Linked DNA regions of Homo sapiens. The protein of the gene in region 5 purifies or fractionates together with the protein of the main gene of each other region. This does not show direct contact. Each region holds a gene or a part of one and is shown on either strand. Other genes may lie near its edges.

Region 1 (3,500 bases), on a different chromosome or scaffold from region 5:
GATCTCCTGACCTCGTGATCCGCCCGCCTCGGCCTCCCAAAGTGCTGGGATTACAGGCGTGAGCCACCGCGCCCGGCCCAACTTCAGTTTTAAAGGACCCCAGCGAGCTGGAGGGACACAGTGTGAGGGCTGAAAGGCGGATGCTAGTGTCCCAGGCTGCTGGGGACCCGGCTCGCCCCACGGCTGAGTGGCCGTTTGATTCCTCATCTGTAAATGGGATGATCTAAAACCTGGCTTAGATGGCTGTCGTGAGGATTCCATAAAGCTATCTGTGTGAAAGGTCGAAGGGTGCCTGGCACATGGTAAGGTTAAATTACTAGCATTCTTACGATCATTGCTGTTGTTTTTTGAGATCCTAAAAAGTCCTGAGATGGTGACCTGTAAGATCTGTGAGAAGAGGTACTTCTGCCACAGTGAAGAGGGAAACCTGTCGGTTCCAAAGCTCTGAAACAGGGCGAAAACCCGCAGGACAGAGGAGCAGGTGTCCACTCACCGTTCCTGGCCAGCTCCTCCAGCAGCCCACTCCACTCCTTCCGGAAGAGGTTGGCCCCGGTGAGGCTCCCGTCCCCGCCGATCACACACAGGTTGGTGATGCCGCGCTGCAGCAGGTTGCAAGCAGCCTTCAGGCGGCCTTCCCGCGTGCGGAAGGCCTGGCACCGCGCACTGCCAATGATCGTCCCGCCCTGGGAAAGACACCAGCTAATTTATCTCCTCTCAGTCTGAGAGAGCGCCAGGTGGATGGCACACACAGGCCGACTATAAACATGGGGTGCTAGAATTTACATTTTTCTCATTTTCATCTTGTGAGTTAGTAACTAGCTATGAAAGACTGTGATTTTCCTGTTTTTAGTCCCAGACCAGCATTCCATGGACAAAGACAGGCGCGTGACACCCAGGAGGAGCCAGGGAGGGTGCAGAGCCAGACACACGGCAGCCAGCAGTTAAATACATGGAGCAGGAACCAGCCTGCGGTGTCACAGCAGCCGCCTCAGCACCGGCCAACGAGCTCAACCAGGTGCACGTGGAACCAAAGACAAGCCCACTGACCACCAGAGCATGCCGGCCAGGACAAGGGAAGCGGTGTGACCAGCAGCCAGGCTTCTCCCTCCAGTCACCCCTTACAGCACCTGCAAGTAAAACCAGCAGGAACCTGGGGCCAGGGGGATTTTTTTTTTTTTTTTTTTTGCACCACATACTCGCTGCCCCTTTTAAAGAGCTATATCTTCAGGATCTTAAATTCTTTCATCCAAACTTCCAGGGGACATAGATCATGATTCGTCACACTTGGTTTTCCAAAAACTAAGAATTGTTGGTGGGATCCACAAATGCAAGATTTCTTTAAATAAAACCATGAATGCACCAAAAAACTCCATCCGTACGGGATCCCTAAGCGCGTGCTGACTTTGTCAAGCAAGGTGCTCATAAGCACAGCAGGGGTTGTCTCTGCACTGGAGGCGAAGCTCTCCCTGCCTTCGGTCTGCAGGCAGCTCCCAGGAGACCCCTGCAGTGACGTGAGTGCGTGTTTCGATACACCAATGGTGCACGCACACAGCTCATTTTCACACACAGAGACTCACTAATATTCCAAATCCCAGAAAAGCTCCTATTTTTACATGAAACCTACCACCATTTAATTTATCAAAACATTATGAAAAGGTTACAAAAACTGAAATTCACTCCACACGATCCTACGTCACTGGCACCAAGTGTGACCGAGACCATTTACAACCCAACCCCCAAGGCAAGTGAGGGTGGGGGCGCAGAGCAGGGCAGGGGTGCTCTCTGGACTCTGCCTGGACAAAAACCTGGGGGGCAGCACGAGAGCCAGCACAATGGGAGCTAGAGCCAGCAACCCAGAAACTCCAACCAAAGAGACGAGGTGGCCGCAACTCAGGAACGAAACCAGGATAACTGGGCTGCAGAGGAGTGGGTGCCATTCCCATTCTCTCACTCACTCTCTTTCACACACACACACACACACACACACACACCACACACCTACACATACAAGGACACCACATATACACACACCCCACACACAGATACACATTCGCTAGCCAGAAATTCACACAGTTAACACATACACACGGGCACACCACACATACACACTCAGACTCACACACCTACATACAGACACACACCAGACTCACACAGTTACACACACACCGAGATTCACACACCACATACACCACACACAGAAACACAGACTCACTGATACACATACGCACTTCAACTCTCCGTTCACATCTTATCTTCCTCCGTCAATCACGACCGCAGAATGGAAACGCTCCCCTGTGTGAATTCAGCCCACACTCTCCTGATGTTTTGCAAACGTTGCTCCACCTAACTTCCGTGGTTGTCAAAATTCCCTCCACCTCTCTTCTGATGTGTCGGAGCTCAGGAGGCGCCCAATGCAGAGAGAGCCTGGACCAGCACGAAGGTGTGGGCCCCATGAGCGTCTTCAGCGGGGAGGCACCGATTTGGATTATTTCTATTAACAAGTACTCAAAGTGACTCACAGATTAACACATGCATTTCTAAAAATCAAACCACAAGTAAAGAGCTGCTCACAAAGTCTGTTCTGTCCACATAATCTCTATTTCGCAACTGATCTGAGCTCAAGTGTTCTGGGAATTTACTAGACATAAAAGAGTCTCTAACTCAGAGAACCCTGTGGACGCAGCCCAGTACCTACCACTTGCAGGATGCTGGAGACACTCTCCCAGTCGGCCTCTGCGATGTTTGAGCCTCCGTCCACCATGCCCTGGTAGCCCTAGGGGAGAAAGGGAGAATCTTTTAAAAATGAGATAAACTTCACTAAATGGGAAGTGATCCTTAAATTATATAAAACGGGAAAAATGACAGTGAATGTCAGTTCCTCAGCATCCACTGGTCAGAAGACAGGGCAGTTCCAGCACTGGATAAAAGCAGTGAATTGTGGGAAAGTCCTCACCTTGAGTCCCTAGTAATGGGAACGTCTGCCTAGACTCAGCCTCACAGTGCAATGAGGAATCAAGCCATTCTCCTATGGCCCAGCGTTTCCCGAGAGGTTGAAAGGGTCGTGTTTCGCTAGAGGTTGAAAGGGGTCACTTTCACCCAACGTGTTTATCATACTTCAGCACAAACTCACAGGCACACAGCACTGTCGAGCACGGGACATACATGGGAGCATTTTGTCAGGGGCTCCGCCTGCCAAGGCACCCTGCGCCACTTGGGATGTATGTTGAATATTATTAAACAGCACAGCTGAATAATAATTGTCTGCCTTACCCTCCATTAATGACACGGTGCTGCATTAGGGAATCAGATATCAATATGTGAGGACACATTGATAGAAGAAGCCCAAGGACAATTACCTTTTTTTTTTTTTTTTTTGAGACGGAGTCTCACTCTGTCACCCAGGCTGGAGTGCAGTGGCGCGATCTCGGCTCACTGCAACCTGCCTCCCGGGTTGAAGTGATTCTCCTGCCTCAGCCTCCTGAGCAGCTGGGATTACAGGT
Region 2 (3,500 bases), on a different chromosome or scaffold from region 5:
AAGATTATCTTGTTTTAAATTTTAAATGTAACTGTTGCTACTTCACGAAGAGGGATCTATTTCTTTTTTCTTTTTTTTCTTGAGGCAAAATCTCCCCATGTTGCCCAGGCTGGCCTCAAACTGTTGGGTTCACGCGATAGGATCACTTGCCTCACCCTCCAGAGTAGGGGATATATTTCTAATCATTATATAGATTGGTGAAAAAGTAATTGTGGTTTTTGCTATTGAAAGTAATGGCAAGGATGTGGTGGCTCATGCCTGTAATCCCAGCACTTTGGGAGGCCAAGGCGGGAGGACCACCTGAGATCAGGAGTTCGAGAGCAGCCTGACCAACATGGAGAAACCCCATCTCTACTAAAAATACAAAATTAGCTGGGTGTGGTGGCGCATGCCTATAATCCCAGCTACTCGGGAGGCTGAGGCAGGAGAATCGCTTGAACCCAGGAGGCAGAGGTTGTAGTGAGCCGAGATTGTACCATTGCACTCCAGCCTGGGCAATAAGAGTGAAACTCCGTCTAAAAAAAGAAAAGAAAAAAAAAAAAGTAATGGCAAAAACGACAATTACTTTTGCATCAATCTAATAGCATGTTATTTCAGGGAGGACTCAAAGAGTAAAGATCAGGAATAATTGAAGGGAGACAGTGAGGAATCTAATAGTTGCGTTTAAAATAGAACATTCCTGACTCCCCTACTTTTATTCTTTATTCTTGTGTACTTTCTGTACTTCTCATGCATGAAGTCAGATCTAAGAATTGGAAAACGATCATGAAAATGAGTGACCAACAGGGAAAAAAAAAAACATTCATAAGGAGAGAGACAGCACATACTTTAAATAAGCACGCAGTGGCTCACGCCTGTAATCCTAGCACTTTGGGAGGCCGAGGCGCGCAGATCATGAGGTCAGGAGATGGAGACCATCCTAGCTAACATGGTGAAACCCCGTCTCCACTAAAAATACAAAAAATTAGCCGGGTGTGGTGGCAGGTGCCTGTAGTCCCAGCTACTCGGGAGGCTGAGGCAGGAGAATGGCGTGAACCCGGGAGGCGGAGCTTGCAGTGAGCCGAGATCGCACCACTGCACTCCAGCCTGGGCAACAGAGGGAGACTCCGTCTCAAAAACAAAAACAAACAAACAAACAAACAAACAAACAAACCAAAAGCACGATCTGCTAGGCACAGTGGATCACGCCTAGAATCCCAGCACCCTGGGAGGCTGAGGCAGGAGGATCACTTGAGCCCAGGAGTTTGAGACCAGCTAGGCAACATAGTGAGACTTCATCTCTACAAAAAATAAAAAAATGCCAGGTGCAGGCCTGTAATCCTAGCACTTTGGGAGGTCGAGGTGGGCGGATTACCTGAGGTCAGGAGTTCAAAACCAGCCTGGCCAACATGGTGAAACCCCGTCTCTACTAAAAATACAAAAAATTAGCTGGGTGCAGTGGCACCCGCCTGTAATCCCAGCTACTCTGGAGGCTGAGGCAGGAGAATCGCTTGAACCTGGGAGGCGGAGGTTGCAGCGAGCCGAGATCACGCCACTGCACTCCAGCCTGGGCGACAGAGCTAGACTCCATCTCAAAAAAAAAAAAAAATTAGCCAGGTGTGGTGGCATGTGCCCGTAGTCCCAGTTACACAGGAGGTGGGAGAATCACTTGAGCCCAGGAGATCAAGGCTGCAGTCAGCTTGATTGTACCACTGCACTCCAGCCTGAGTGACTGAGACCCTGTCTCAAAACAAACAACAAAGTACACGATTCAAAACAACTCCCAACTAGAAAATATTACACAAACCATAGAATTCTTCAGGAAAATCTATTTCTGTAGATGTAGAAAATTTACTTTGTTATCAAAAACTGAAGTAAAGATAGGCTTCAATATTCATTTGGTCTTTAACTGCATGAATAATTCTAAAAGCATGGCACTACCAATTCCTAATCTGCCCTAACAGCATTATACATAATTGTGACAGACCCTTTTTTTTTTTTTTTTTTGAGACAGAGTCTTGTTCTGTTGCCCAGGCTGGAGTGGTGCGATCTCAGCTCACTGCAACCTCTGCTTTCCCAGGTTCAAGCAATTCTCCTGCCTCAGCCTCCCCAGTAGCTGGGATTACAGGTGCATGCCACCACGTCCTGCTAGTTTTTGTATTTTTTTTTTTTTTGAGATAGAGTTTCGCTCTTGTAGCCCAGGCTGGAGTGCAATGGCGTGATCTTGGCTCACTACAACCTCTGCCTCCCAGGTTCAAGCGATTCTCCTGCCTCAGCCTCCCGAGTAGCTGGGACTACAGGCACCTACCACCATACCTGGCTAATTTTTGTATTTAGTAGAGATGGAGTTTCACCATATTGGCCAGGCTGGTCTGGAACTCTTGACCTCAGATGATCTGCCCGTCTTAGCCTCCCAAAGTGCTGGGATTACAGGCATGAACCACTGCACCCGGCCTAGTTTTTGTGTTTTTTAAAGTAGAGACAGGGTTTCACCATGTTGGCCAGGCTGGTCTTGAACTCCTGACCTCAAGTGATCTGCCCACCTCAGCCTCCCAAAGTGCTGGCCACCACGCCTGGCCAATTGTAACAGACACATTTTTTTTTTTTTTTTTTTGAGATGGAGTCTTGCTCTGTCACCCAGGCTGGAGTGCAGTGGCACGATCTCGGCTCACTGCAACCTCTGCCTCCTGGGTTCAAGCGATTCTTCAGCCTCCCAAGTAGCTGGGACTACAGGTGCGTGCCACCATACCCAGCTAAATTTCATATTTTTAGTAGAGACGGGGTTTCACCATATTGGTCAGGCTGGTATCGAACTCCTGACCTCATGATCCGCTGGCCGTGGCCTCCCAAAGTGCTGGGATGACAGGTGTGAGCCACTGCACCCAGCCATAACAGATACATTTTAAGGCATCTACCCTCAATGTCCATCTTCTCCAAATATGTGAGTTTGTTTCTCATTGGCCAAAGCTGATTCAAACAGGGCTGCTGTATTTATCAGCTAGGTTGTGTTAACTAGACTTTCCAGGGACTTCAGAACTGGGACACAATCATTTTAGTGAGGCACCATGAACCCCTGAACAGGGTGAGCTTGTAAGGGACTGGAAGAAGCAAGCACGTTGGGGCCACGTGCAAAACTAGGAAATACTGACTAGAGAAAACTGGTATGCAAAGAGGGAAAAAACAAATGGGCCCTGGACAATGAGAGGTAAGATACCAGGAACTTGGGGCTGTATTTTGTGCCCTTAGGTTCTATGACATTCTACTTTATTGCTTTGAGTTTGTCTAGATGTTTCTGTTACTTGTAACTCAAAGAACCCCAATGGAATCATCTCATCAGGTTCGCCTGAGCCCAAAATTCAAGGCTACAGTGGGCTATGATTGTGTCACTCTACTTCAGCCTGGACAACACAGTGAGACCCTGTCTCAAAAAAAAAAAAAAAAAAGTGAAGCCTGAAGATGTAACTGAATTGCTGCAATCTTGTTGCTTCTTCTTTTTTAGTCTTATTCTTTCTTTCTTTCTT
Region 3 (3,500 bases), on a different chromosome or scaffold from region 5:
TGTAGAATTTTATATAAATGAAATCATATTGTATATACTCTTGTTTTGGTATACCTTTTTTCCACTCAACATCGTTATTTCATTCTGTATCTACTGAGCTGATCGTGTCTTTTCATTTTCAGTCTGTTAATAGGGTGGATTACATTGATTTTTGTAAATGTTAAACTAATCTTGCATTCCTGGGATAAACTCCATTTGGTCGTAGCGTATTCTTTTTATATATTGTTGAACTGAATTCACTAAATTTTTGTTTAAAATCTTTGCATCTGTGTTCATGAAGGATTTCAGTCTGTAGTTTTCTTGTTATATCTTTGTTTAATATGAGATGGGAAGTGTACTGTCCTTTTCTCTTTTCTGGAAGTGTTTGTGTAGTGTTGGTGTTAAACTTCATTACATGTTTGGCAGAATTTACCAGTAATACTTTTTTAGCTGTTTTTATTTTATATTTTACTTTTCTCCTTACCTAGTTTGATAGTGGCAAGGATATGATATGTGAAAGATGCAAGACCTTCCATTGTAGCTTTTCTACCCTTAGTAGGATTTATATTGTATTTAAAGAATAATTCACATAAAGGCTGGGCACGGTACCTCATGGCTGTAATCCCAGCACTTTGGGAGGCCAAGGCGGGTGGATCACTTGAGGTCAGGAGTTTGAGATCAGCCTGGCCAACATGATGAAACCCCATCTCTACTAAAAATACAAAAATTAGCCAGGTGTGGTGGCAGGTGCCTGTAATCCCAATTGCTCAGGAGGCTGAGGCACAAGAATCGCTAGAACCCGGGAGGCGGAGGTTGCAGTGAGCCAAGATCATGTCACAGCACTCCAGACTGGGCAACAGAGCAAGACTCTATCTCAAAAAAAAAAAATGGTAATAATAATTCAAATAAAATGTCAATAGTGATTATCTCTGTGGAGTCAAGCTTTAAAAAAAAAATCCAAAACACCAAACCTAATTTAATTTTAAAAATAAAGGTGGGCCGGGTGTGGTGGCTGACGCCTGTAATCCCAGCATTTTGGGAGGCTGAGGTGGGTGGATCACCTAAGGTCAGGAGTTCAAGACAAGCCTGGCCAACATGGCAAAACCCCGTCTCTACTAAAAATACAAAAATTAGCTGGGCGTGATGTTGGGCGCTTGCAATCCCAGCTACTCTGGAAGCTGAGGCAGGAGAATAGCTTGAACCTGGGAGGTAGAGGTTGCAGTGAGTTGAGATTGTGCCACTGCACTCCAGCCTGGGCGACAAGAGGGAAACTCTCAAAAAAATAAATAGGCTGGGCATGGTGGCTAACACCTGTAATCCCAGCACTTTGGGAGGCTGAGGTAGGTGGATTGCCTGAGGTCAGCAGTTCGAGACCAGCCTGGCCAACATGGTGAAACCCCGTCTCTATTAAAAATACAAAAATTAGCCGGGCATGGTGGCGCATGTCTGTAATCCCAGTTACCCAGGAGGCTGAGGCAGGAGAATCGCTTGAACCCAGGAGGTGGAGGTTGCAGTGAGCCAAGATCGTGCCACTGCACTCCAGCCTGGGCAACAGAGTGAGAGACTGTCTCAAAAAATAAAATAAAATAAAAAATATTTTGGCCAGGCGCAGTGGCTCATGCCTGTAATCCCAAGACTTTGGGAGGCTGAGACTTGAGTCCAGGAGTTTGAGACCAGCCTGGACAACATAGTGAGACTTTGTCTCTATTTGAAGAAAAATAAAATAAAAGTGATTTGATCATTCCACTGGAACATAGCACTTTGGTCTTCCGGCTTTACAAAATATATCCATTGTATATATATTTTTTTAAGTGACTTGATCAGTCCTCAGTATCCAGGACTATAGGTCATACTGATAATGTTTTGAGATTGGATAGTTCTCTCCTCTATGTTACTTATGAGGTCCTTTCCAGGACCTCATTAAACTACATAAGTAATAGAGGCTTGACATAATAGAGGACCTTATTAAACCTCATAAGTAATAGAGACTTGAAGGGTGATATGGTTTGGCTCTGTGTCCCCACCCAAATCTCATGTTGAATTGTGATCTTCAGTCTTGGAGGAGAAGCCTGGTGGGAGGTGACTGGATCATGGGGGTGGATTTCGTCTTGCTGTTCTCATGAGATCTGGTTGTTTGAAAGTGTATAGCACTTCCTTCTTTGCTCTCTCCCCTTCCTACTCCAGCCATGTAGAATGTTTGGGCTTCCCCTTCACCTTTTGCCGTGATTGTAAGTTTCCCGAGGCCTCCCCAGCCATACCTCCTGTACAGCCTGTGGAACTGTGACCCAATTAAACCTCTTTTCTTTATAAAGTATCTAGTCTCAGGTAGTTCTTTATAGCAATATGAGAATGAACTAATAGAAAGGGCTCTGCCTTCCTAATAACTTACTGATTGTAATTTCCTGATCTTAGACCTACAGGCCACCTTTTCCTTACTCTTTAGTTCAACTTATTTCTCCTTTGATGATAGACAGTGCTTGGGAAACTCCTTTGACCATGACACCAGTAAGCCCCACTGCAGCACACTGCAACTAACCTAGGTAGTCTAGAGACTCACCTAGTACCAGAAACTGGTTAGTCACACTCTATTTTTGGGACAGGGTTGTGTTTGGCCTGCTATATTCAGGGTAGACTGTGCCACAGAAAGCAACAATTCTTGGTATGTGACAAATCTGAAACCATGAAACCATGATTGTAAGTTTCCCGAGGCCTCCCCAGCCATACCTCCTGTACAGCCTGTGGAACTGTGAGCCAATTAAACTTCTTTTCTTTATAAAGTATCTAGTCTCAGGTAGTTCTTTATAGCAATATGAGAATGGACTAATACAAAGGGCTCTGCCTTCCTAATAACTTACTGATTGGTCATGTTACATGTTAGTCAGGCTGGTCTTGAACTCCTGACCCCGTGACCTGCCCGCTTCAGCCTCCCAAAGTGCTGGGATTACAGGCGTGAGCCATTGCACCCAGCCCAAAAGATTTTTAAAACAAAATGTGTGATATAGTAATATATATGCTTCTTTATTAACACATTATATAATGTGTCTAATATCTATGATGATTGTAAAGTAATGATGAGCATAAATGATATTTTGAGATATCTGCAAACTAGCATAATAGAAAGGTTTTTTTTTTTCATTTCTATTGTTCACAAAGTCCCAGGTCCTATAATACTGCTACAATTTATTTCCTGTGTTCATAATGAAAAGAAATGCTGTATTTTAATAGGAGATTGGTGAAAAGAAATTTGTATTTTTTTCCCTGTCCAAATTCATGGACTCTGAATTCTCTTTATGGATGCCTTGGGGATCCTTAGACTTGAGGTTAAGAATTTCTGCATTAAAAACTTCCTTCCCTAGTGGCAAAAGATGGTAGAAGGCCAGCCTCAGAAGTATCCTTGTGCCTGAAGGACTGACTATTCCAAGGGAAGTGAGGTAGACTAACCCCACTACATACATACATACATACATACATATATGTATATATATATATATTTTTTTTTTTTTTTTTTTTTTGAGACAGAG
Region 4 (3,488 bases), on a different chromosome or scaffold from region 5:
TCACCACGGAGAAAACTAGGCCCCAGAGAGACTGAGCCTCTCACTCCAGGCCTCACAGCCACAGGAAGCAGGCTGGGGGCTAAACCAGGATGGCAGCTCAAGACCACGTGTGGCGCATCCAGGTAACCTTCCAGGGCAGGTGAGGGGGGCCATGCCCAGCCCAGCCCGGCCCACCCCGCTGCCCCACATACCCCTGGTCTTATCCATCTCCATGCGCCGCAGCTGGTGCTCCCAGGTGCCCAGCTCGCTGTCCACCTCCTCATCACTGTCATAGCCGTGCTGGTGCTGTTGGACTGCCTTCTCCCACAGCAGCTGCATGTCCTGCATGGCCCGCTTGTGCTGCATGATCATGTCGTACATCTGCTGCATCTGCAGGGCACACTCGCCAGTGAGCCAGGGCACGGTGCTGTGGCCTGCCGGAGCCCCGCTCCTGCTCCCCGCCTCCAGTGCTGGGCATCCCCCGCCGGAACGTGGCTCATCTGGACCCCTGGGCAGGACTGGAGCAAGGACTCTAGCAAGTACTGAGTACTGCCCTGGGTTCTCTAAATCCCAGTGTGGAGCACGGAGGACCTCTTGGCCACTGAATGAGGGTGACTCAGGGTCCTGACCCCTGGGAGGGTCAAGGGTGATGTGACGGGGCTGCGGGCCTGGAGGAGGGGTCACAGCGAGCTGACCCCAGGGACTGACAGGCAAGCGCCTGCAGCTCCTCAGGGGAGCCAACACCGACACTGCCCAACTACAACTGGGAGGCCTCAAGTCCCTCAGGGTGCCCTGTGCTGACCAGGATGGTCCTGCACTAGACACGACAGAGGACTGCGGACAAAGAACATCAACGTAGACTCTCCCATGGGAACCAGCCCTGGAGCGCGGCGAGAAGCAGCCACAAAGCTCAGGCCAGGATCACAGACCACCGGGGCCGCCCCAAGGGCCAGTGGTCTCCCAGGCAGGCTGAGAGGCCACTCAGGTGCAGTGGGGGGTGGCATGCCACCTACTGGGGCAGGGGGACCTGCCTGCCTGGAAGCCTCCCCGCTGGCCATGGGTTCCACCTGAACACAGGAGCTTGGCGAAGCACATGAACCCCTGTGACCGCTGCACCCGGGGGTAGAGGACAACACTCTATGGGCGCCGACCATGTCCCCGTCCCCTTGTCCCCGCAGTCTTACCTCCTGCTGCTCCTTCAGCTGCTTCTTCTGGGCGTCTGAAAGCTCTGTGACGCCCACTAGACCCACAGGCTTCCCCTTCTCATAGCCGAGCCCCTTGAGGTCCTGAACTGGAAACCAAAGACACAGGGTAGTCAGAGCCTGACAGGTGCACCCCGATCTCGCTCCTGCGCTGGGGTGTGCTGTGAGTCTCACACCTTCATGACACTCCAGGCACACGGGGACCTCATATCATTACTGTCAGTGCCACGTGGTACGTGACGGCCTCGGGGTCCCGCTGTGTGCTGCCACGTGCACCCCCGCATCTTACGTCCTTGTGACCTCTCCAGCCAGGCTCTACGCACCACCACATTGCAGATGTGGACACCAAGAATCAGAGGTTCCGGGACTCACTCAGGGTCACACAGCTAACGAGTGACAGGGCAGGAATTTGCAGAGCCAGAGACAAGAGAGCTGAGACGGCATGTGGGCAGCATGCATGGGCGCACGCACAAACGGGCTCTCAGAAGGCAGCTCCGTTGCTAACAGACACCAGGTGTAAGCGCGCACAGATTCAGAGTCTGGCGTAAGACTCAGCTGTGCGACTCCCTTAGCTCCTTCAGGGGAGGCAGCCAACCATCCTCAGAGCAGCTGACATTTAATTTGGCATCAGCTGTGGAACTTGGCAGGCTCCAGTAACACTGACACATAGAAAGATGCTGCAACAGCCCCATCCGGGTGGCAGAAACCACCACCCCTCGGGCGGTGCGGTGCTTCCCGGGGGAGAAGGTGAGCAAAGGGGTGCAGCGGGCCCTCTGGGAAGGGAAAAGATTTGGGTCCTTCCAGCTCATCAACACTCGGGCTTTGCCGCTAAGAATGGCCCACATTTGCACTCTTAGTCCTTCCTTGGTTTACAGGGCACTGAGGGATGTGGGGGAGCCCTGTTGGGGAGACGCAGGAGCCGAAGTCTGAGCATCTGGTTGATTGCCTTAGAGCATGCCCACAGTCCCTTTCCCCCAGGCCCACTCCACCACATGAGCGGGCGGGTGAGGGCTGCCATGCTCCCTGAGGACATGGATCAGTGGGACTTGAACCTGGGCCTCAGACTTTGGAGCCTGTTCTGTCCAACTAAGCCACAGGGCGACTTCTTCACCTGCTGGGTGTCTCAGAGCTGGGGTGTGTGCGCATTGAAGCACCCGGATCTAAGCACTAGGGTTCGGCACTTGAGTGACAAACCAATCCTAGGTACCCTCCACCCTGGCTGCAGTTGCTGGCTACAGCCCTGGTAAGCATAAGAATCTTCATTCAGTAGCTTTTCTCCTTGACCTAGAATCTCTGAGGCCCTTGGGGCCAGGGAGGCACCGAGAAAGCAATCATCCCTGAATTGGACGAGCAGGTCCAAGAGGCTGGCCACCCGACCTGGGAAGGCTGTCGCCTTCCCTTTTGGGGTCCTGTCCTCATCTTGCAAACACAGGTGATGGCGCCACACAACAGGGCACGTCGGACTCCTCCATGCACCTGTGTGTTGAGCGCCAGTGAAGGTGGAGTGAGGGGGTGATGTTTCTGCTCCACAGTGCAGGCTGCATAGCTGCATAGTGGGGCACCATATGACATGAGATAGTGGGTGTCAGTCACTGATTATCATCTGCAGAATGCAATGACAAGAGACCACCCCCCAACCCTTGTAGGTTTGGTAAGAAAATGAGAGACCAGGCCATAGGCTGGCCCTCCCCGAAATTGCTGCTAAGAAGGGAGAGGTGAAAAGGTGATTGTGTAAAACTGTGGTAATTATTGTGCTTATCGTTGTCTGTCTCTTGAACTTTCTTTCATTTTTCCCGAGATGGAGTCTTGCTCTGTCGCTCAGGCTGGAGTGCAGTGGTGCGATCTTGGCTCACTGCAACCTCCGCCTCCCAGGATCAAGCAATTCTCCTGCCTCAGCCTCCCAAGTAGCTGGGACTACAGGCACGTGGCACCACATCCAGCTAATTTTTGTATTTTTAGTAGAGACGGAGTTTCACCATATTAGTCAGGCTGGTCTTGAACTCCTGACCTCAGGCGATCTGCCCACCTTGGCCTCCCAAAGTGCTGGGATTACAGGCGTGAGCCACCACACCCAGCCTCCTGAACTTTCTGTGACAAGAAAGAATCCAAGTACTGGCCGGGAGTGGTGGCTCATGCCTGTAATCCCAGCACTTTGGGAGACTGAGGTGGGAGGATAGCTTGAGCCCAGGAGTTTGAGACTAGCCTAGGCAACATAGTAAGACCCCATCTCTATTTATGTTAAAAAAAAAAAAAAAGAGACTCAATTCAGACCCAAAGACACAAATACAGTCAGGAATCACTTCATGG
Region 5 (3,500 bases):
CTAAGAAAATATTTTGTAGTTTGATCAAAAATGGTTCTGGATAAATTGCCCAATCTTCCCATGCTCTGAAGCAAGTCATTACCCGTTGCTAAAGAAACAGGAAACAGACAACAAACTTTTATTTTGGGCTATATGTCTCAAATTTCAGTTCATGAGAATGATCATCAAGATTTGCTAAATTTGCCTTTAAACTGATGTTTTTTTAAACTTTAAAGAAAATAACTATATATCATTACCATATTTTTTAAAAAAATCAATGTCACCTTCTAATTAAAAGGAAAAAAACCCCTAAAAATAAATATAATGAAAAATAAACAGTAACTATTTGCTCTTTACCACCTAAGGTCAGCTCCCATACCATTAGTACTACCCATGAGCCACATTCCAGAAACACTTACATAGAAACTTACTAAAACTGGAAACCAAAGTAGCCAAGTTTTGACCTGAATCCCTTATGGTCCAATAAAGTACTTCCTAATTCTGGCTAATACTTTACTCTGTATCTTCCTGAAACTTGTCTTTAAATTCTAACTTATGGTCAAAATTTAAGGTCAAAAACTTTTAAAATGGGAGTTGTCTGAATGCCCTAAATGGTGGCGTCACTGGGCATCTTCCGAAACTAAAAATTTTTCTTAAAAAAGTCTTCTTCCCATGAAAGCATATTTACTTATTCAATTATAAGTGAAGTACTACACTTGGCTTTTCTTAACACTGGTCTAGAGCTTAAGAGGTTATAAAAAAATTGGTAACAGAATAGACTTTCTAAACATGATTAAAATGTATGTCTTTAATCCAGCCAAATAGTATATACCATTACAAAACAAGTGATTCTTCTGTATGTTTTATGAAAAAAGACTAACATTTATAATTTTTAAACAATATTTAAAACTAAAATTAAACCTGACAAAATAGTATCTTTTAAATTTTTGATTTGATAAAAACAAAAACGACAGAATTTTAAAACAGTAACTTCTGTAACATCTAAGTTTTAAATTTATGTCTCATACTTGTCTTATGCACTTTTCTAGCCCTTCAATGCCCTCCCCCCACCCATTTAAAACACTAGGGCAAAAATAGTAAAACAATAAACGTACCTTAAAGTTTTCAGATTGTAAATGGCCTTGAATTGTACGATAGGTGGCATTGAGGTCTGAAAATATCTGACATAACTTTGTTTCAAAACTGAAATTCAAATAACACATTCTTTAAAATAAAATGTTTAAAATTCCTTTCCCTTTTAGCATGCCAGCCAATGAAAACCCCTCCTGAACTTAAAATACTTACAAATCAAGAAATTATTAAAAATCAAAAACTAGGTGTTTAAACTCTAAAACCGTAACTGAATTGCTTGAACTCTTATTACTCTGAATTTTTCTCCTACAAACTCCCCAACAGTCCCTACTAGTTCCCTTTACGAGCAAGAAACGTTATATCTAGGATATGCTGAACCATCTCGTCCAATTTCTTTATTTTATAAAACAGAAAACTTAGAAAAGTGACTCGTCCAAGGCAAAAAAACTAATAGCAGACCTAAGAGTAGGATCCAGCTCTCTAAATTTCTTTTCAGAGCAACATCCTAGGGAAAAGCTTCCCTTTGCCTAATTCATAAAATAAACACAGAAAGAGAGCTCTGGGGAACAGAGGAAAAGTTATACTTTTTTTTTTTTGAGATGGAGTTTTGCTCGTCACCCAAGCTAGAGGACAATGGTGCCATCTCGGCTCACTGCAACCTCCGCCTCCCGGGTTCAAGCGATTCTCCTGCCTCAGCTTCCCGAGTAGCTGGGATTACAGAGGCACACCACCACGCCCAGCTAATCTTTGTATTTTTACTAGAGATGGGGTTTCACCACGTTGGCCAGGGTGGTCTCGAACTTCTGACCTCAGGTAATCAGCCCTTCTTGGCCTCCCAAAGTGCTGAGATTACAGGCGTGAGCCACTGTGCCCAGCTGAATTATACATTAATTATAATACAGCAACGTAACTTCCTTTTGCCTTAGGAAACATTTACAATGAACTAAAATCAATATGCTGAGGATCAGAAGAGAACACAGATTCTATAGTTAATAGTATGTCTTTGGTCTCTTATGTTTGCCAGTATATACACTGTTTCTATTTATTATATGAATAGCTAGATATGCAATAAAGTTCTCTTTAACACCTATTTGTTATACTGTCAATAGCTAAGAAAGTGATATGATATAAAATCTTTCCAAAAAATTGGTAATTTAGCTTAAGTGTAAGCCAATTTTTTAAAAAATTCTACAAACCATTAAGAAATTCAAATTAGTCTTCCCTCAGTATCCATGGGGGGACTGGTTCCAAGACCTCCCATGGACACCAAAATCCACAGATGCTCAAGTTCCTGATTGAAAATGGCATAATATTCACCTGTAACCTATCCTCATCCTCCCATCTGTTAAATCATCTCTAGGTTACTTACAATACCTAATACAATGTAAATGCTATGTAGAGTTTTCATACTATATTGTTTAGAAAATGACAAGGAAAAAAGTCTGTACAGGTTCGGTACAGATACAATTTTTCTTCTCAAATATTTTCAATTCATGGTTGGTTGAATTCATGGATAAGGAACCCACAGACATGGAGGGCTGACTGTACTTCTTATTCTTGCAGGATGTTAACAAAACAATCCTCTTTTCTGAACTCCTTACCCTTAAATACTTTATTTCAGGAATATCAGTTATATCATTATACTTACAATTTTCTATAATATGAAGCATTAGCAACTTTGGCTGAAGAGTTGTACAAAACATCAGAAACCAAATATAATCTGGCAATCTATAATATCAAAAGATAACACAAAATAGGTTAATATAAGGCTAATGTTTAGCTATAATTTAATTATGGCTACTAATTAGAAGAGTTATATGAAGCTCAGTATCACCACAACTATGACTCTGGCAGAGATGAAATTTGTTAACCCATTTACATTTCAACTTGTTTGTTAACTTGTATGTTAATGAACCTAAATTTCCAAGCAGAAATAACATAAGACTGCATGGGAAAAATCTCATCAGTCAAGTGCTTTGTGCAAAAAGGAAACCAATTCTAATCCCAAAAGACGTCAACTATCTCCCCTTTTCTTAAAATTCATTCCCATACCTTTTTAGGAAGGGGTGTCTTTAAGATGGACAACGACTCAGTAATGCAATCCACTATTTCTTCAGCAGCTTCAGCATTATTAAGACAGAAAACCATTGCATCTCCAATATCATTTTTCCTTGGAGTTAATCCCCGCAAGATTTCTTCCAATTTATCCCTCTGTCTGAACATAAATTGTTTTAACTTATAAATATTTAGATACAATTTCAAATGCCATTGTAGCTTTTGCTCACAAACTAATTTCTTTAAAACCTACTCACATAAAATAATTCTGAAGACTGTAATACATTCAGTCTGATTTGTGTTGTGTCCCCCAAAATTGTTACAATTTTTTGAAGAATTTATATAAGAATACTCTGTAGAATAAGATTCCAATT
Region 6 (3,500 bases), on a different chromosome or scaffold from region 5:
ACCTGCTTGGCAGCCGCAGCCCCATCCATTTCCGCCTCCACCAGCTTGGACATGAGGCACTCCTTCTCCTGTTGTAGGTGTTTCTTCTGAAGTCTGGGGCCAGAAAGACGGCTCTGTGAGCCCTCCCAGGCCCCCGCATGCCCAGAGATCCAAGGCTTGCCTCACAATGCCCTAGGGGGCTCACCTCTGGTCAGGGAAAAGTAGGGGAGGGGGCAGGGACAGCCCTTCTGGCCTGGGTGGCCTTCAGAAAGGACCAGGGCCAGAAGTTACATCTGCCTGGGCACCAGACCAGGGCCTCCACACCAGGAGACATTAGCTACCTGTGGCCCTGTTTCTCTCAAACAGCCACCATTGTCATCTCTGCACTGCCCCCCTCCACTGTCACGCCCTCCTACGCACCATCTTCAGATACGATTTTGAGCCCTTCTACCTCTTCTCTACACTGCAGCCAAGGCTAGTCAGGCCACCTCCCTGCTTTTAAAACTTCCATGGCTGTAGGCTGGATACAGTGGCTAAAGCCTGTAATCCCAGCACTTTGGGAAGCCGAGGTGGGCAGATCACTTGAGATCAGGTGTTATCGAGAGCAGCCTGGCCAACAGCTAAAACCCCATCTCTACTAAAAATACAAAAGTTAGCCGGGCATGGTAGTGGGCACCTGTAATTCCAGTTACTTGGGAGGCTGAGGCAGGAGGATTACTTTAGTCAAGGAGGCGGACATTGCAGTGAGCCAGGATCACGCCACTGCACTCCAGCCTGGATGACAGAGCGAGACTCCATCTCAAAAATTTTGAGATGCCTCCCAGGATCAAGCAGTTCTCCTGCCTCAGCCTCCAGAGTAGCTAGGATTATAGGCGCCCGCCGCGACGCCCGGCTTAATTTTTGTATTTTTAGTAGAGACAGGGTTTCACCATGTTGGCCAGGCTGGTCTCGAACTCCTGACCTTGTGATTTGCCCGCCTTGGCTCCCAAAGGGCTGGGATTACAGGCGTGAGCCACCACGCCCGGCCAAATAAATTAATTAAATAAAATAAATCCTTTCCATGGCTTCCAAATGCCCTCAATGCAAATGCCTCAAAGTGGCTGCTGAGAGCCAGCCCCCTGCCAACCTATGTGGCCCCCTTATCCTCTGCCCACCCACTCTGGCCTGCCTTCCATTTCTCAGCTACAAACACTTTCCCACCTTGGGGCCTTCGCATAAGATGTTCCCACTGAGTAGCGTGCTTTCTTCCCTAGCACCCACCTGCCGAATGCTTAACCATCCTGCAGGACACCCCTTAAATATCACTTGTTCCAGAAACAGTTCCCTGCTACCCAGTCCCACACCACAATCCACGGGGTCCTCCCTTTCCCTCATAGTACAAATCATAAGCACAACCAGGTAATTAACTGTAATTAATTGTGTGACTGTTGAACAGGCTCCAGGGCACAGGCACAGTGCCTGTGCCCACCTCCTACGTTGCTTTCCATTATTGCCCAGGGCTCAAGGCAGCCTGGTAGGGAGGAATAGATCAGCGGGGACAGAGCAGGAGCCACCTTACATGGTGAAGTCCTTCTCCTCCTTCATGCGCTCGATGTTGTGCCTCAACACCGTGTTCTCGTGCTCAGTCTCAGCCAGTTCGTGGGCCACCTCCTCCAGCTCTTCCTTCCGTTCCTCCAGGAACCTTTTGGCCATCTGGCGCTCACCTTTTTGCATCTTGACCTGAGCAGGGGGACCCAGGCAGGGGCCACTGAAGGGAGGTCCTTCCTCTATGCCACATTGCTAGGCTCAATGCTTTGGACCAAAATAAGGCCCCGGCCGGGCGTGGTGGCTCACGCCTGTAATCCCAGCACTTTGGGAGGCCAAGGTGGGTAGGTCACTTTTGGTCAGGAGTTCGAGACCAGCCTGACCAACATGGTGAAACCCCATCTCTACTGAAAATACAAAAATTAGCCAGATGTGGTGGCACATGCCTGTGATCCCAGCTACTCTGGAAGCTGAAGCAAGAGAGTCGCCTGAACCCAGGAGCCAGAGGTTGCAGTGAGCCGAGATCGTGCCCACTGCACTCCAGCCTGGGCGGACAAGAGTGAGACTCCATCTCAAAAAAAAAAAAACAAAAACAAAAAAATAAGGAGCCTTCCAATTGAGAACTACACAGGCTGCATGCCAGGGCCTTATGGGTGCAATCTCAGTTAACTGCCATGAAGACTGACTCTCCTGGGAGATGCTGATTTTCTTTTTGTAGATGAGGAAACTCAGTACAGAGAGCCCCAGTGACTTGTGGGTTGGGAACGAAGCCAGGTTGCAAACCGTGGTTTGGCTGGCACACCATAGGAGGAGAGATGTCACAAAAAGGCTCTTGCACTTTGAGTTATAGGGGAAGAAGGGCTTTTTTTTTTTTTCTTTTGAAACAGGGTCTCACTCTGTCATCCAGGCTGGAGTGCAGCGGTACGATCTCAGCTCACTGCAACCTCTGCCTCCTGGGTTCAAGTGATTCTTCTGCCTCAGCCTCCCAAGTAGCCGGGATTACAGGCGTGTGCCTGGCAAATTTTTGTATTTTTAGTAGAGATGGGGTTTCACCATGTTGGCCAGGCTGGTCTTGAACTCCTGACCTCAAGTGATCTGCCCTCCTCAGTCTCCCAAAGTGCTAGGATTATAGGCATGAGCCACCACGCCTGGCCAAGAAGGGCCTATTCTAGGCAGCCAGCCCTAGGTTCTCCAGGAGGTTCCCTGGACCTCGAGTACAGGGTGGAGGATTAAAGACACAGGTCGTGTTAGCAGTGAAGACATAGGCTGACATAGCAATCCAAGTCTAAGGCCTGGATTTTAATGACAACTCTGCCAATTTCCTAGTTGGGGACCTTGGACTTCCAGGTTCTATTTCCAATTCCATTGTCACATCCCACCCCAAGAGAGAGCACGGCAACTGAGGACAAACTTCCTTGGCCTCTTTGGGGCTTTGTTTTTGTTAATTTTTTTATTTATATATATATATATATATATATATATATTTTTTTTTTTTTTTTTTTTTTTTTTTTTTTTTTTTGAGACAGAGACTCTCTCTGTCGCCCAGGCTACAGTGCAATGGCACAATCTCAGCTCACTGCAACCTCTGGCTCCTGGGTTCAAGCAATTCTACCACCTCAGCCTCCTGAGCAGCTGAGACTACAGGTGCACGCCACCACGCATGGCTAATTTTTGTTTTTTAGTAGAGACAGGGTTTCACCGTGTTGGTCAGGCTGGTCTCGAACTCCTGACCTCAGGGGATCCGCCTCCCAAAGTGCTGGGATTACAGGCGTGAGCCACCATGCCCGGCCTGTTTTTGTTAAACCTTATATAAAGCGGAAGGCATAGGCCCTAGTTTCCTAGGTATTTCATCTCTGTAATGAGGACAGTAACACCACTGGCTTCACATGCTGTTGTAAAAATTCAAATTGGACCACCCATGTGGAGCACCAGGACAGCTACATGCTCAATAGAGAGGGCCCTTGTTGGTGGGATGGGATCCCATGCTGCCCCAGCTA
Region 7 (3,500 bases), on a different chromosome or scaffold from region 5:
CAGTCCTCTCTTTTGGAACTCATAAAGACTGAAAACAAGGTACAGAATCCTAAATCTAAAAAATTGTTTTAAAAATGTTTTAGTTATCTGTAACAATTTACTTTTTATTTTGTTTTTACTCATGAAACTAGGTCTTAAACAAAGTCATCACTGTTTATGCTGCACTTTGTTGTGAAATCAAGAAATTAAAATATGAGGTAATTATTTGAATTCTTGTCTTAAAACTTTAAAAACATCATTTAGAAGCAAGTATGTGTTTATATATGTACAGTGTGCAATAAATATTTATTGAATGTTGAATGAATTATTTATTTAACGTAATACTAATACGGACTACCATTCATTGAGTACTTAGTATGTACAAAACACCAGGCTAACACTGTAATCCTTATAGTAACCCCAGGAGGTAGGTGAGACATTGATGAGGAAACTGAAGCTTAAAGAGAGTGTCACTTGCATAACATCTTACTGGTAGTCAACAGTTTGAATCTAGGTTTACAAACCTCCAGAGTTTGTGTTACCTGCCATATATACTGGCTATCTAGAGAAAACTGATTTTTTTTTCTTAAAATGCATTTAGTTTTGTGTTTCCTTACCCAAGAACCATTAAAAGTCTGGTAGAAGTTGACAAACTTCGTATTTTCTTCTCCTGCTTTTTGATACCATGTGGTTGCTCTTTATTTCCCATAAACTAATGGGAGGATGTGGGACAGTGAGGGTGGTCAGATAAGATGAAGTAAAGGCTAAAGGAATCAAGATACAGCTTTGAGTATCAGTAATATTTTTGTTACTCTAAAGATGAATTGCTTTATAAACAGATTTTGAATTTAAATGAATTTGTATGCAAATGATGTAGCCCTCTGTTTATTACTAAGTATACAGATCTAAGAGAGCATAGGAATTTGGAAACAAAACAACCTTTAAAATTATTTTAATTTTTTTCTTAAAAACAGGCTGAAACTAAATTTTACAATGGTCTCTTGTTTTATGGAGAAGGAGGTAAGTTTAAAATTCCAAATTGTGATGCCTTTTTGATATTGAAATGAACAAAAAGTTAACAGACAATTTTAGGACTACTATGATTATATAATAGTGTGAGAAAAATAAGTATTCATATTTTTTGTTGGTATGTTTGGTAAACAGGTAAAAAAGCTGAGGAAGCAGCAGCAAATTTGTGATATCTTTGTACTTTACGAAGTACTGTAGGTAGATGAGAATTTTCCTTGAATTCATTAAATAGTGAAGCAAATACTTCTAATTATTTGATTAATGATTGTCTGATTTTTCTCTTTGGTGTAAAAATTCTGTTTTCAATACTATGCAGAGTAAAAGATGTCCTAATGAAAAAAAAAAACTTTTCCCCCTTTTTTGGTATTGATTGAGTTTAAATTTAAAAAATGAAATATGCTTATTCATGTTGCCTTTTACAGCTACAGATGCCAGCATGGTGGAAGGTGATTGCCAAATTCAAATGGGGAGATTTATTTCATTCTTACAGGTAACTGATTTTTACTTTCTACTGAGCTTTTACTTCAAAAAGTTTGAGTAAATTACACAACACGTAAAAAGTTCTGAAACCTTCAAATACTAAAGATGTGTACTCTGAGGATAAGACACTTAATTAGCATTGGATTATAGTTTAGGAGATCATAACTCCTAAAAGATTTCCAAGTATTTTTAGAGGAAAAAGCTATCAAAATAAGTTTCTTTGTGTATATTTCTTTATGGACAACTTGTCACCATGCCTTTTAAAATAATTTAAACTTTGTACCCACTGGAAAAGATAAATTGTATCAGGAAAAGTTGTTAACGGATAGGAGAGAATTAAGCTATTACATGAGCAATGATGAAGTTGTTTAAAGCGGTAGCCCTCCATGCTTCTAACAGCTTGTTTCAGTTTAGATAGCTTCTCATCACTGCCAGTTTTAATGATTGTAGGTCCTTTGGTTTACTCTTATCAAAAGAATAAAATGGCTTCTATTTCCTCCTCTGTGATAAAAATAGTGCATGTACGATGTGAAAAAGCAAAAATTGAAGCTAAGGAAAAAATACCCATAGTCCCACCTCCTTTCTGTTGTTGAGTACAAGATTTGATATATTTCATCAAATTAGGCATGCTAACATACTGTTCAAATCTTTTATATCTTTACTACTTTTTTTGGTCTAATTGATCTAATTGAGAGCATTTTGTTCATATTGTGATATGTGTTATTCAGGGTCCTGTCTAGAAAACTCCATACAAGGTATTTCAAAAGATGTAGTTTGGAGGATACAAAGTAGCAGATATGTAAGATGAGTAAGTCTAGAGATCTGATGTACAACATGAAGATTACAGGTAATAAAATACCGTATATGGCATTCATGCTGAGTAGATTTTAGCTGCTTTTGCTACAAAAAAATGGGTTAGCTATGTGAGATGATGGATTTGCACTTGACTATAGTAACCTTTTTATTATCGGTATGTATCCCATAACATGTTGTATACCTTAAATATACACAATAAAATGTATTTAAATAAGAAGAGAGGGGATTCAATATAGAGAATTGGTTACCCAGGAGTTGGAGGACAAAGAAAATACTGAGGTGTAGTCCAAAGGAAACAGATACCTCCTTTACATCCAGAGAACAAAAAGGATAAAGATTGGGATTGCCAGGATCTGGGAGCTTGGAGAAGAAGCCCCATGAAACTGATGCCTATGCTGAGGTGGCACTGCCTATCTGCTGCTGGCTTCTTTTCCAGCAAGGTGTCTAAAAAATGTAGTTGGTAAGGTCCCAGTAAATGTGGAAACTTTGCATTTTTCATTTTGAGGGTATTTTATTCAGTGTGTACAAGTTTAGAATTGTTAATCATTCCTGGTAAATTGAATCTTTTATCATCATTTGTGACCTTCCTTAGCTATGATCATGATTATGTGTATATGATTATGTATATGTATTTTACATGCATAGCAATTTACTGTACTGATGCTAATCAAGTCTGTTTTGTCTGACAGTATAATAATAATGCTGCCCTGGCTCCGTTTTAGTTAACATTTTCTTGATTTATCTTTTTCCATTCTGGCAGCCTTTCAGTGTCATGTTTTAGTTGGGTTTATTTAAAACCACATATATCTAAATTTTGCTTTTTTAATGTAGTCTGACAATACCTGTTTTTTAATCGCTTAATTTATTCTGTTTCTAGGTCTATCTTATATAGTCTGTATGTATATCTGGGCTTGTTTCTGCCTTTTTACTTTGTTCTTTCTGTTTGTCCTACATTTTCTCTGCTTTTTTTAAACTTCTAGAAGTTTAATAGGACATGTAAAACTATAACTATTTAAAAATAAAATGCGTTATTTATTTTCATTTTAAAAAATACTTTACATCATATTTAGATCTCACAGCTGCATAAAAATTCCGTTTTTAAACATTCAACAAATATGTTTTGTAAGCCTAGTATATGCTAGAAACTGTTATTGGTGCTGGTGATATAGCAATGCACAACACCAACAGAAATTCCT

What was found.
Region 1: the proteins of U2SURP (region 5) and PFKP fractionate together in Homo sapiens (co-fractionation; one large-scale study listed by BioGRID). This does not show direct contact.
Region 2: the proteins of U2SURP (region 5) and METTL2B purify together in Homo sapiens (pull-down; one large-scale study listed by IntAct). This does not show direct contact.
Region 3: the proteins of U2SURP (region 5) and KIFBP fractionate together in Homo sapiens (co-fractionation; one large-scale study listed by BioGRID). This does not show direct contact.
Region 4: the proteins of U2SURP (region 5) and SUGP1 purify together in Homo sapiens (affinity purification with mass spectrometry; one large-scale study listed by BioGRID and IntAct). This does not show direct contact.
Region 6: the proteins of U2SURP (region 5) and ODF2 purify together in Homo sapiens (co-immunoprecipitation; one large-scale study listed by IntAct). This does not show direct contact.
Region 7: the proteins of U2SURP (region 5) and WASHC4 fractionate together in Homo sapiens (co-fractionation; one large-scale study listed by BioGRID). This does not show direct contact.

What each region holds. Positions count from the first base shown.
Region 1 is NC_000010.11:3,098,548-3,102,047, reverse strand, and holds part of PFKP (ATP-dependent 6-phosphofructokinase, platelet type), read right to left. Parts: intron 2,774-3,500; coding exon 2,696-2,773; intron 1,128-2,695; coding exon of another isoform or gene 1,048-1,127; intron 684-1,047; coding exon 494-683; intron 1-493. UniProt on the Homo sapiens protein: Catalyzes the phosphorylation of D-fructose 6-phosphate to fructose 1,6-bisphosphate by ATP, the first committing step of glycolysis.
Region 2 is NC_000007.14:128,490,248-128,493,747, reverse strand, and holds part of METTL2B (tRNA N(3)-cytidine methyltransferase METTL2B), read right to left. Parts: intron 1-3,500. UniProt on the Homo sapiens protein: S-adenosyl-L-methionine-dependent methyltransferase that mediates N(3)-methylcytidine modification of residue 32 of the tRNA anticodon loop of tRNA(Thr)(UGU) and tRNA(Arg)(CCU).
Region 3 is NC_000010.11:68,995,303-68,998,802, forward strand, and holds part of KIFBP (KIF-binding protein), read left to right. Parts: intron 1-3,500. UniProt on the Homo sapiens protein: Activator of KIF1B plus-end-directed microtubule motor activity. Required for organization of axonal microtubules, and axonal outgrowth and maintenance during peripheral and central nervous system development.
Region 4 is NC_000019.10:19,279,022-19,282,509, forward strand, and holds part of SUGP1 (SURP and G-patch domain-containing protein 1), read right to left. Parts: intron 1,271-3,488; coding exon 1,164-1,270; intron 370-1,163; coding exon 192-369; intron 1-191.
Region 5 is NC_000003.12:143,032,570-143,036,069, reverse strand, and holds part of U2SURP (U2 snRNP-associated SURP motif-containing protein), read right to left. Parts: intron 3,287-3,500; coding exon 3,124-3,286; intron 2,800-3,123; coding exon 2,720-2,799; intron 1,183-2,719; coding exon 1,095-1,182; intron 89-1,094; coding exon 1-88.
Region 6 is NC_000009.12:128,469,506-128,473,005, reverse strand, and holds part of ODF2 (outer dense fiber protein 2), read right to left. Parts: intron 1,699-3,500; coding exon 1,538-1,698; intron 94-1,537; coding exon 1-93. UniProt on the Homo sapiens protein: Seems to be a major component of sperm tail outer dense fibers (ODF).
Region 7 is NC_000012.12:105,114,231-105,117,730, forward strand, and holds part of WASHC4 (WASH complex subunit 4), read left to right. Parts: coding exon 1-39; intron 40-131; coding exon 132-197; intron 198-953; coding exon 954-999; intron 1,000-1,430; coding exon 1,431-1,498; intron 1,499-3,500. UniProt on the Homo sapiens protein: Acts as a component of the WASH core complex that functions as a nucleation-promoting factor (NPF) at the surface of endosomes, where it recruits and activates the Arp2/3 complex to induce actin polymerization, playing a key role in the fission of tubules that serve as transport intermediates during endosome sorting.